Regions from separate parts of the Homo sapiens genome. Here region 1 is linked to region 2. Evidence: fine-mapped QTL for protein levels in blood plasma. Region 2 holds a variant in brackets. A gene starts in the other region. All regions are shown on their reverse strands. Region 1 holds the start of CRH (corticotropin releasing hormone). Region 2 overlaps LOC107987108 (a long non-coding RNA gene).

The links. PIP is the posterior inclusion probability: the model's chance that the variant is causal. Protein levels are from antibody-based Olink assays in UK Biobank. Linkage for the fine-mapping came from a reference panel and not from the study's own genotypes, which makes the PIPs less certain.
Region 1: CRH starts here. The variant in region 2 is fine-mapped to the plasma level of the CRH protein (UK Biobank, PIP 0.97).

What each region holds. Positions count from the first base shown.
Region 1 is chr8:66,175,642-66,180,641 of GRCh38, reverse strand. CRH (corticotropin releasing hormone) reads left to right here and starts at 2,178. Exons shown (of 2, transcript NM_000756.4): 1 at 2,178-2,349; 2 at 3,151-4,266. The coding sequence starts at 3,165. The coding sequence ends at 3,755. It overlaps LOC112268029 (a long non-coding RNA gene), which reads left to right. Exons shown (of 4, transcript XR_002956713.2): 4 at 682-756. RefSeq lists an enhancer at 3,223-3,292.
Region 2 is chr9:105,969,649-105,975,176 of GRCh38, reverse strand. All of the region lies in intron 2 of LOC107987108 (a long non-coding RNA gene), which reads right to left. Among named protein-coding and RNA genes, the nearest start is that of TMEM38B, 280 kb to the right of the region's middle. The variant C/AC (reference allele first, on the strand shown) is at 2,247.

The DNA of each region.
Region 1 (5,000 bases), not on the chromosome of region 2:
CCTCTGGGGTTCAGGAACATTTTTTTCCTTACTCCCTAGTTGGAGCCACTTTGGCTCTATTAATGACTTACCCCAAGAAAACCTCACAGCAAGGACTCAACAGTGATGAGGGAGCTATACTAAAACAATATCCCCCAGATAGCCCAATGGGAGAGAGATTTGTATGGGCATGGGTTTAGTCAGAGCCCAAAACTTGTTGTGTCTTCTCTGGAAGAACCTCCCAGACCTCCCCAGCTAAACTCATAACCACATCCCTTTCCTAGTTTATCTTCTGTGTCCATTTACTGCACTGAAACTTCCTATTCCAAGTCAACGTTTCACCTCCAGATTGACATCCAAGCTGAAATCTGCTAACAGGGTCAGAAAACAGTTCATAAAGGAAAGTAAGCAAAAATGTTGAACCCATTCCAGCTTAATAAAAAAAAAAAAAGCCCACAATAACAAAATCTAAGGTTCTGTGTGCTTTCCTACCAATATAAAACACAGCTTTCTCCCAGAAACTCAACCATTTTCCATAATCATGATCTTCTATTAACAACTCACATCTTTCCAAGTAGGCACATTCTCTCTGTTCTCTTATGTCAAAAGTACATAACATGGTGCAGTGATCCAACTATGGGCTGGCTTCTCTGCAAACTGTCAACATTTCTCTCCCTGCCTTCCCTTTGTTCCTAAGAGCAGTTGTGGATTGGTATAGACCCAAAATGGAAGTTGAAATATGCATTGCATCATTTGTCACATTAGCTACAAAGGAAGCAGCAGAAGTAATCAGAAATGAGGAGCAGGAAATTTCCGATAAACAACTCTGATGGTTATCTGGAAGCTGAATTGAATCACAGGCACAAGAACTTGGAATTGCATTTTGAATTGCAGAATTAGAGGTAACTGCCTCCCACCTATATGATAGTGTCAATTAATCAAAAATTGAATATAGTTTTACAGGCTTAGCATTCCATTCCATTCTGCGACATGTCAGAGAGCATTTATTTATTTAACAGGCTGACATGAAGCACATTTGGATTTGGAAAAAGAAATAATTAAAAAGAACCACCCTGGGTGGCCCAGATGTGGATACTATTATGGATGTTGATAGTATTTGGAGGTGAAATGAACGAGTTTTTTTTTACAGACTCAATATTGACCAATGAAAACATGTAACTAATGAATTTAGCCCTGTAGTCAAGCAGTTTAAGCCTTTTTCAACATAGATTAGGAAGTTAGAATGGATGCCTCTCATTGAGTTTGCATTCAGTAGAATAAGTAAAGCTTGTTTAACTCATGCATCTCTCACTGGCCGCCTCTCTCTTTAATTTGGGAATAGAAAAGGGAGTCCACAATTAATTTTAGATTGTGAGAAGAGAGACAAAAAAAGGAGCAGAGAGTTTCTGAGATAACCTAAAATCTTTGCCGCACCCCTTACTAACCCCGGTTTGTGCCCCTTCACTATGGGAGTAGCTCTTGTCATCATCTAAAAAACTTGAACTGCATTTTGAGAGATTTATTGGCCTTGCTTCTGCAGGCTCATAACTCCTTTATGTGCTTGCTCTTGGGAGGAAAAAGCAGATAGACGTTTAAAAGCTGGATGTTCCTGCACACCCCTCTCCTGATGCTTCATTCTTTTCCAGGCAGAAAGATGGTGGGACTCTGTCTCTAGCAAAGGGATATTTCCAGATACTGAGGTGTTGTCAGAGACACCTGGTCAGGGAGGTTAGGAGAAGGGGCATCCAGGTCCACCCCCTCCAACTGGCTGCTGCTTTCCTGGCAGGGCTGCACTGGGACACCTCACTTCCTTCCCACTTCCCCTTCCTCCTCCCATTCGCTGTCTCTTTGCACACCCCTAATATGGCCTTTCATAGTAAGAGGTCAATATGTTTTCACACTTGGGAAATCTCATTCAAGAATTTTTGTCAATGGACAAGTCATAAGAAGCCCTTCCATTTTAGGGCTCGTTGACGTCACCAAGAGGCGATAAATATCTGTTGATATAATTGGATGTGAGATTCAGTGTTGAGATAGCAAAATTCTGCCCCTCGTTCCTTGGCAGGGCCCTATGATTTATGCAGGAGCAGAGGCAGCACGCAATCGAGCTGTCAAGAGAGCGTCAGCTTATTAGGCAAATGCTGCGTGGTTTTTGAAGAGGGTCGACACTATAAAATCCCACTCCAGGCTCTGGAGTGGAGAAACTCAGAGACCAAGTCCATTGAGAGACTGAGGGGAAAGAGAGGAGAGAAAGAAAAAGAGAGTGGGAACAGTAAAGAGAAAGGAAGACAACCTCCAGAGAAAGCCCCCGGAGACGTCTCTCTGCAGAGAGGCGGCAGCACCCGGCTCACCTGCGAAGCGCCTGGGAAGGTAGGGAGCGCCTGGACGGAACACGCCACCAACTTTGCGTTGCCTGAGCTGCCGCGATGTGCGCCGCGGAGCCGGCTGCCCCTGCCTGTGTACGTGTGTATGCATGTGTGTGCGTGCGTGTGTGTGTGTGTATGCATGTGTGTATGCGTATGTGTGTGTGTGTATGCGCGCGTGCGTGCGTGTGTGTGTGCGCGCGTGTTCGCGGACTATTCCTTAAGATTACAATAGTAGCTGGGATGTGGCAAAAGCAAACTTAGACGGCTGCTCTTCGTTACCCGTGCTGCCAGTTGCTCCTTGCTGGCTGTGTAAAGGAGCTCCCCCACCCCCTTCTATCCTAACCCCCGAGATAAGGCAGCAAGGGCAGAAGTGGAGAGGGAGGACCATGAGGCAGTAGTTCTCAATTTGGAAGAAAATGCTGAAATATCCGGAAGGGAGGTAGTCAGCGCGGGTGGGATCTTAAATCTGTGGCTCTTCTCTAGGATCGGGAAAATTAGTTTTGAGGATCGTTAGGAAGAGGACGCAGGGACCGTCCTTTCAGAGTCTAGAAAGAAGGGTCACTCCTGGCCGGTGAGCGCATGAGCTTAGGTGCGGAGCCCTGCAGGCGCCCCCTTTCCCCGCTCCCCAGGCGCTTCAGCACCGCGGACAGCGCCCATCCGAATCACTGAGGCCAAAGCCCAGCACGTCTAAGGCAGTCCCGTAGGAAGACCCCGTGTGCACCTCCCAGCTGAGCGAACTCTAACCAACTCTTTCTTTCTCTCTTCCCCTCTCTCATTCCGCCCTCCGCCCACCTCTGTGCCGCAGCGAGTGCCCCTAACATGCGGCTGCCGCTGCTTGTGTCCGCGGGAGTCCTGCTGGTGGCTCTCCTGCCCTGCCCGCCATGCAGGGCGCTCCTGAGCCGCGGGCCGGTCCCGGGAGCTCGGCAGGCGCCGCAGCACCCTCAGCCCTTGGATTTCTTCCAGCCGCCGCCGCAGTCCGAGCAGCCCCAGCAGCCGCAGGCTCGGCCGGTCCTGCTCCGCATGGGAGAGGAGTACTTCCTCCGCCTGGGGAACCTCAACAAGAGCCCGGCCGCTCCCCTTTCGCCCGCCTCCTCGCTCCTCGCCGGAGGCAGCGGCAGCCGCCCTTCGCCGGAACAGGCGACCGCCAACTTTTTCCGCGTGTTGCTGCAGCAGCTGCTGCTGCCTCGGCGCTCGCTCGACAGCCCCGCGGCTCTCGCGGAGCGCGGCGCTAGGAATGCCCTCGGCGGCCACCAGGAGGCACCGGAGAGAGAAAGGCGGTCCGAGGAGCCTCCCATCTCCCTGGATCTCACCTTCCACCTCCTCCGGGAAGTCTTGGAAATGGCCAGGGCCGAGCAGTTAGCACAGCAAGCTCACAGCAACAGGAAACTCATGGAGATTATTGGGAAATAAAACGGTGCGTTTGGCCAAAAAGAATCTGCATTTAGCACAAAAAAAATTTAAAAAAATACAGTATTCTGTACCATAGCGCTGCTCTTATGCCATTTGTTTATTTTTATATAGCTTGAAACATAGAGGGAGAGAGGGAGAGAGCCTATACCCCTTACTTAGCATGCACAAAGTGTATTCACGTGCAGCAGCAACACAATGTTATTCGTTTTGTCTACGTTTAGTTTCCGTTTCCAGGTGTTTATAGTGGTGTTTTAAAGAGAATGTAGACCTGTGAGAAAACGTTTTGTTTGAAAAAGCAGACAGAAGTCACTCAATTGTTTTTGTTGTGGTCTGAGCCAAAGAGAATGCCATTCTCTTGGGTGGGTAAGACTAAATCTGTAAGCTCTTTGAAACAACTTTCTCTTGTAAACGTTTCAGTAATAAAACATCTTTCCAGTCCTTGGTCAGTTTGGTTGTGTAAGAGAATGTTGAATACTTATATTTTTAATAAAAGTTGCAAAGGTAATCATGACTTTACTGTTTCTCTTCAGTGCTCATACACTGGAAATACTCTCTTAGCTTCCTCCAAATTGTCTTCAGCACCAGAAAAGAAAAGCAAAACTTCCTGCATTATATTTTTCCACTAAAAATGCAAACATATGTCAGTGGCTTACACAGACCCTGCAATCACGTTGGGCTCATCTCTGTGCCATGGACTACTTCTCTGAGGTTGAGTTAATAATTCAGGAAGTTGCTCCCAGCAGCTCTAAAACATGGTAATTCTAAAAGGGAAGATCATTTTATAATGGAAATAACATTTAGCCCTGATCAATTAAAATATATGAAATAATTGGAGATAGTGGGGAAAAGATGAGGAAGAGAGAAGTGTCAAGCTAGAAATTCCTCCAAACTGTATGGCCAAAATGCTGCATTCTTTTTCTATGAGAAAAACTCACTCTGTCAAACTACTACTTTGGTACCATAAAACTATTTTTTCTAAGCTATTTTCCAATGACTACATCTAATAAGAGAAACTTAATAGCATCTCCACTTAAGACGACTAAATTTAGTCATTATAAAATGTCACATAGGAAAATTTTCTTATGAAGAACATTTTGACTTTAATAATTACACAAATATCCTCCACATTTTTGCTTATGTCAACCCTAATCACTTTTATTCTTAGGAACAGGAACTACCTTTGTTCATTTCTAAAACTGAACAGCACATTTAATTAGTTTTACAGTGCATTTGCCTTTGGTAGTT
Region 2 (5,528 bases):
ATATAACCTTTCTCCAAAGCCCGCCCTGCTTTGACTGGGACCCTCTTCCTTTAGAAGCCTGCTAATAACAACTTGTGGATGACAAGCTCTGTCTTAACAAGCCGGATTAGTTAGTTTAAAGCAATGAACTGAGGCCATTTGTGCAGATGCTAATCAAAAAAAGAAAAAGGAAAAAATTAGAAAAGACCCATGAGCCTCCATCTCTTGTAAGTACAATATAGATAAAGAGGAGTGCGTCCCAGGGCCACATCTGTGAGCTGACCTCTAAGGCACACAAAGGTCTCCGGGGCTGTGGGGTTATAAAAGGAGGGAAGAGGGTTTGTATGGGGCCAGTAGCAGACAAGAGTGGCTCTGAAGGGGCAGTTATCGGAGGACTGTCTGAAGCTTTTTTTCCCCCTTGGAAATTGTTCTTTATTTGTCTCTTATGAGGACTTTGCTTTTGCTTCACAGACACTTCCCAGCTCCTAGCACGGAGCCTGGCACATAGTATAGGCGCAGATTAAATATTTGATGGATAAAAGATTAAATGGATAAGGAAAGATTCAAAAATGTTCAAATGTCAAGAACAAACATACAAATCCCACAAATATATGACTGACCTCTCCTTCCTCTCTTCACCAAGAACAAAACTAAAATTATATTAAACACAACAATCAGCACATTTAGAAAGACATTCTGTATCTTTGAAGATCAATGGCCAGATTGGTTATTAACATTCAACCATGACTGGCACTTTAAAATATATACACAAAAAGGAAAGCTACTCAGCAGATGATTCAGATTTAGAATATTGCAGAAAATTTAAGTCCATTTTAAAAAAAGTAATCTGTCATTTCATCGGCTTCTCTGAGAGGTCACTTTTTTCTACACCACAACTAGGAAAACTGACTCCTGAAGGAAGGAATGTTTGGTTTCCTTTCAAATATTCTGAGAATAACATAATATGCACTCTATTACATTTCAAATCTGAGTATGTAATCAGTGTGAGAGAGAAAAACAAATTACTAGAGAGAATACTAGCTCTCACATTCCAGAGGCTGAAACACACACACATACGCACACACGCACACACACACACACACACACACACACACACATACAGCTTCTATTGGCTCCTTAAATTTTAACTGCCTTCAGAGTACTATTTTTTTAGGAATTCTCTAAGCCAAATGTTTGCTGGAATGCTAACCTCCTTAGAAGCTCAGGATGTCCTGCTGAGATCATTCAGTTAGAAGACATTCAACTGCCCTAAAAGTTAGAGAAGGGTAAGTTTGAGAATTGGAAAGACTCTTAAAGAGCAAAACATAAAAGCTGCCTCTCTGAGTAACACTCATCTCTAACCCTCATAACAAATAATATTTTTGTACAAGAAGGTTGTAGTCAAACTCAAGAAGATACAGATATAACTCCAATGTTCCTTCTATAATTTACAGATAGAAAAGTACGCTCTTCATATATATTCAGCTCATACTGTCTCTCAGCCACAGAGATTCTTTTGTTTTACTGTCAATAATTATCTCATTTTCTCATGTCCCTGCCACCTTGAGCTGAGGAATAGGATCTAACCATGGTGTTGCTGCTTCCAATAAGTTTTAGGATCCAGTTTGTTTTAGACCTCACCTAATTCTCTGGAGTGTTCAAAGCCCAGGTAGGACAATCAGATCTGTCCTTTCAAAGGAGCTCTTTTATTACCAACCTTCTCTAGAATAGATCCCCAAGAATTGAACTAGAATATTTTGTTGTAGTTGAGTTCATCAAACCTGAGTAGGAAACCCACTACACACACACACACACACACACACACATTCAAGATTCCGGGGGAATATAAAATAAGTCAATACCTTCTTGTCCTGAGAGTTTACAATCAAGCTGGGACAGTTAAGAGAAGATTACTAATGGTTATAATATCAGGCAGGACAAAAGAAGTATAATCCGAGTACCTCGCAGAGGCAAAGAAGGGTTGATAAAGTGCTCTATGAAAAATTGAAAATTTGATGAGATTTGAAGGATTATATGTAAGATTTCAACAGACTAAAAGAAAGGCATGAACAAAGACATTCCAAAAGGCGGAAATGACATGAACACAGAGGCAGTAAAGTGTTAAGAAGAGTTTGGGCACACTGAAGAGACTTGTTTGACTAAGCAGAGCAAAGTAGAAGAAAACAAAGCTGTGGTCATATGAGAGGAAATAATATCTAATCCCAGGAGCATATGGGAGTTGCTGACCATTATTGAGCAAAAAAAAA[C/AC]ATTTTATTTGGGAACTCCAGCTTCACTAGATTCACAAAACACAACACTTTTTCAGGATTCCAAGGATGCCCCAGGCAAGCAACAGTCCCAAGGGTGCATTACCAGCAGAAAATCCAGGGGGGTCCCAATTTACACGGAGCACCTTTTTGCCCACTGCAAGTATGACCTTTTAAGAGTCAAAACAGCAAGATGTAAAACCTGTCCTGTTCTGCATGTCTTTGGAAATAAATAAACCTTTTCTATTTCAATACTTGGCATCGTGACAAGACCTAAGAGGAACTAGAGAGATAATTAATAAGGGCATGAGGGGAAAGTGCAATTAAAAATGGCAAAGACTACTTCGTAAATAAGTGCTTCATACTGCGAAAGATTATTACTGCGATCTCCAGCTTCAAACTGAAATCAAATCACTCTGAATGGATAATTTGAACATTATTAGGGGGGAAAAAGCCATCATGGTTCCTAGCCTCTAAATTACAGGAGAAACAAGATTTTATTCTGACTTCACCTTTCTGTCAGTTTAAATCAACAAAATAATCACAGTTTAGTCCCAGTTGGCATAACTCTCCATAACCTCAAGTTTTAACGTTCTTCAGTTTCTTAACCAGAAGAGGAAGTTAGATTGAGAATGCCTCAAGAAGAATCTTTTCCAGGGAACTATTAAAAAAAAAAGTCTCCTAGGAAACAAGAAAGGCAAACTCCCTTTATCTGAATAAGAGCCTTTGTTGGAAATAAAATCTAGCTGGAGCAAATCTGAAAGCACAAACCCCACCAGGCTTGGAGATGTTTGAACCTCTGTCCCAGTTTACAGAGCCCACTTAAAGTACTGATGTTTCCCATCTAAAAAGCAGTCCATGTGTTTGTCACTCTTAGGAGAACTTTTGGCTTCTGCCTTTTGAATGGAATGATTCAAAACTGTATCGTTTCCTGCAATTTAATTTCATAGCTAAATGCAAAGTATAGGAAGATAAGGTCACAGGGATATGGATCTATCTCCAGAAAGTGATCACACTCCCTGGGCTGCCGTAAGTGGAGATTTAATTGGATACAGTAGGTTTTGCTATGATTGTAACATGGAGATAAATTATTTTTAAAATGGCCAATGACCATTGGCAGCTCAGCAGGAATAGGGGTCAGAGAAGAGTACGGCTTCCAATTATGGCTTGAGATAGAAAGAATTGCTTACATCAATTTCAGATGGTTGTGAATAGCATCATTATTTTGTAATCATCATCATTATTGTCGTCATCATCATCATCCTGACTTATATTTTTTAGTAATCTTAGGAACAATGACTAGAGGGGAATACTGTATACTGTTCATTCTCTCTTTACCTTAGGTTGAGGAGGTCCACTAAAATAAAAATGGGATGAATAACTCCTATCATTCCTGCACAAAATAATTGACCCAAATTCCTTTAAGTCAGAAGTCAACAAATTATACCTGCAGTCCAAATCTAGCACTCTGCCTCTGTTTGTAAATAAGGCTTTATTGGAACACAGCCATACTTATTCATTTATGTATTGTCTATAGCTGCCTTTACAATACAATGACAAAGTTCAGTAGTTAATGATAGAGACCATGTGGCCTGCAAAGGTTGAAATATTTATTCTCTAGCTCCTCACTTTGCTAACCCCTTCTCTATCTTCATCATCAGTATCATAATCATCCCTTCCACTGTAGAAGTCATGGAGTATCTGAAGGTTTTAACACATCTTGTTTGATAACACCTTTCTGATTGATGAAGATGGAGACAATTGCAGTGCCCACAGACATCTCAGACTAGTGTCACTTCTCTATGAGAGATTCAGACCTGACATTCCCTTCATCATGGGACACTCAGGATAAGGACATCACTTTGTATGTAGAGTGAGGGCCAGTGCTCCTGTTTGTCAGTAAGACTGAGAGGCATTAGGCTTGATCTATGGACTGGGGCGATTCATCAGGAAATGACAGTGAGGGCTGTTAAACTTGGAAACTGCTTATTAAACCACCTTGTGTGTAATACATTTGTAACTGCACATATTCTCATCCATCTGGAGTGGAAATATGTAAACGAAGAAACATCAAAGTTGAGTATTAACCTGATTGGACTTTTATAAACTGCAGTAGCAGAATAAAATATTGGAAATAATTTAAAGCCTAGATGACCTTAGTTCAAATCCGGACACCCATTAGCTATGAACATTCGGACAAATTTCTTACCCTCTCGAAACTTCCATTTCTTAATCTGCAAAATAGAAATGTTAATAGATAACATTTATTTTTCAGGGTTGTTGCAGGAATTAAATAAGGTAATTCCTGAATAATGCCCAACACAGCGCAGTAGATGCTCAAAATGGCAATGGCAATGACTACTGTATTTGGCTTTAACTAAGAAGACAGTAGAATCCTTTCCTAAGAAAGACTGATTTCAATGCTCTTAGTAAATTGGGCTAATATTCTTAAAAGTTATTTAATTTGGTATTCAACTTGTTTTTAATATTATACTTAAAATATTATAGCTTGCATTTTTACATCACTTCGACTCCCAAAGCTTTTTCAAATGAACCCAACATTTCTGTGCCTGAAGTATGCTATAAGGATCAGGTATTTGTCCATTTAACAGATAAAGAAAATAAAGTTATACCTAGATTCCTACAGTAAATGAATTAAGCTAAGGCTCTGGCTGTAGTGCCTCATGGCTCAAGCACTTAGTACTACCCTGGATGTTATGTAATAGTCTTTTAAAAGTCAACTCTAACATCCTGGGGAAGGCAGGGATCCCAGTCAGAAAGCTACACTATAAGGAATGAAAGCCAGGGCAGAAGATGCTGAGAAAGAAGGCAAGACACTCAAGAAAGCAAGAATCTAACAGAAAGATGATGCTTCAGAATTCAGACAAATACAGCAGTGTGCCTTTAAAAAGGACCATGTCTATACTTCTATATTGCTTTCTATCTGAAGCTAAGCCAGAGGGATGTACATAGTGAGATCTTTGTCTCATTTCAGGAAGGATACAAGATAAAGATTCTGTGCCAGTAATCTTCCTTGGATTAATGGTTTCTCTTTTATCTGCTGTATTTCTGCTCAGATGTCTTTTCTCTGAATGAGTCAGAGGAATGCAAATGCTGGGTGCAGTCCGCCTGAAATATTTAAATCTAGTTTTGCAATGTTTTGCAGGTTTGGAGGGAAAAATTACACACACACACTTACATATGATGAAGGAATGGCAGATGAGAATTACAGACACATCAGCCAGCAATACAAAAATGTGGTATTTCAATTTGACAACAAATTCA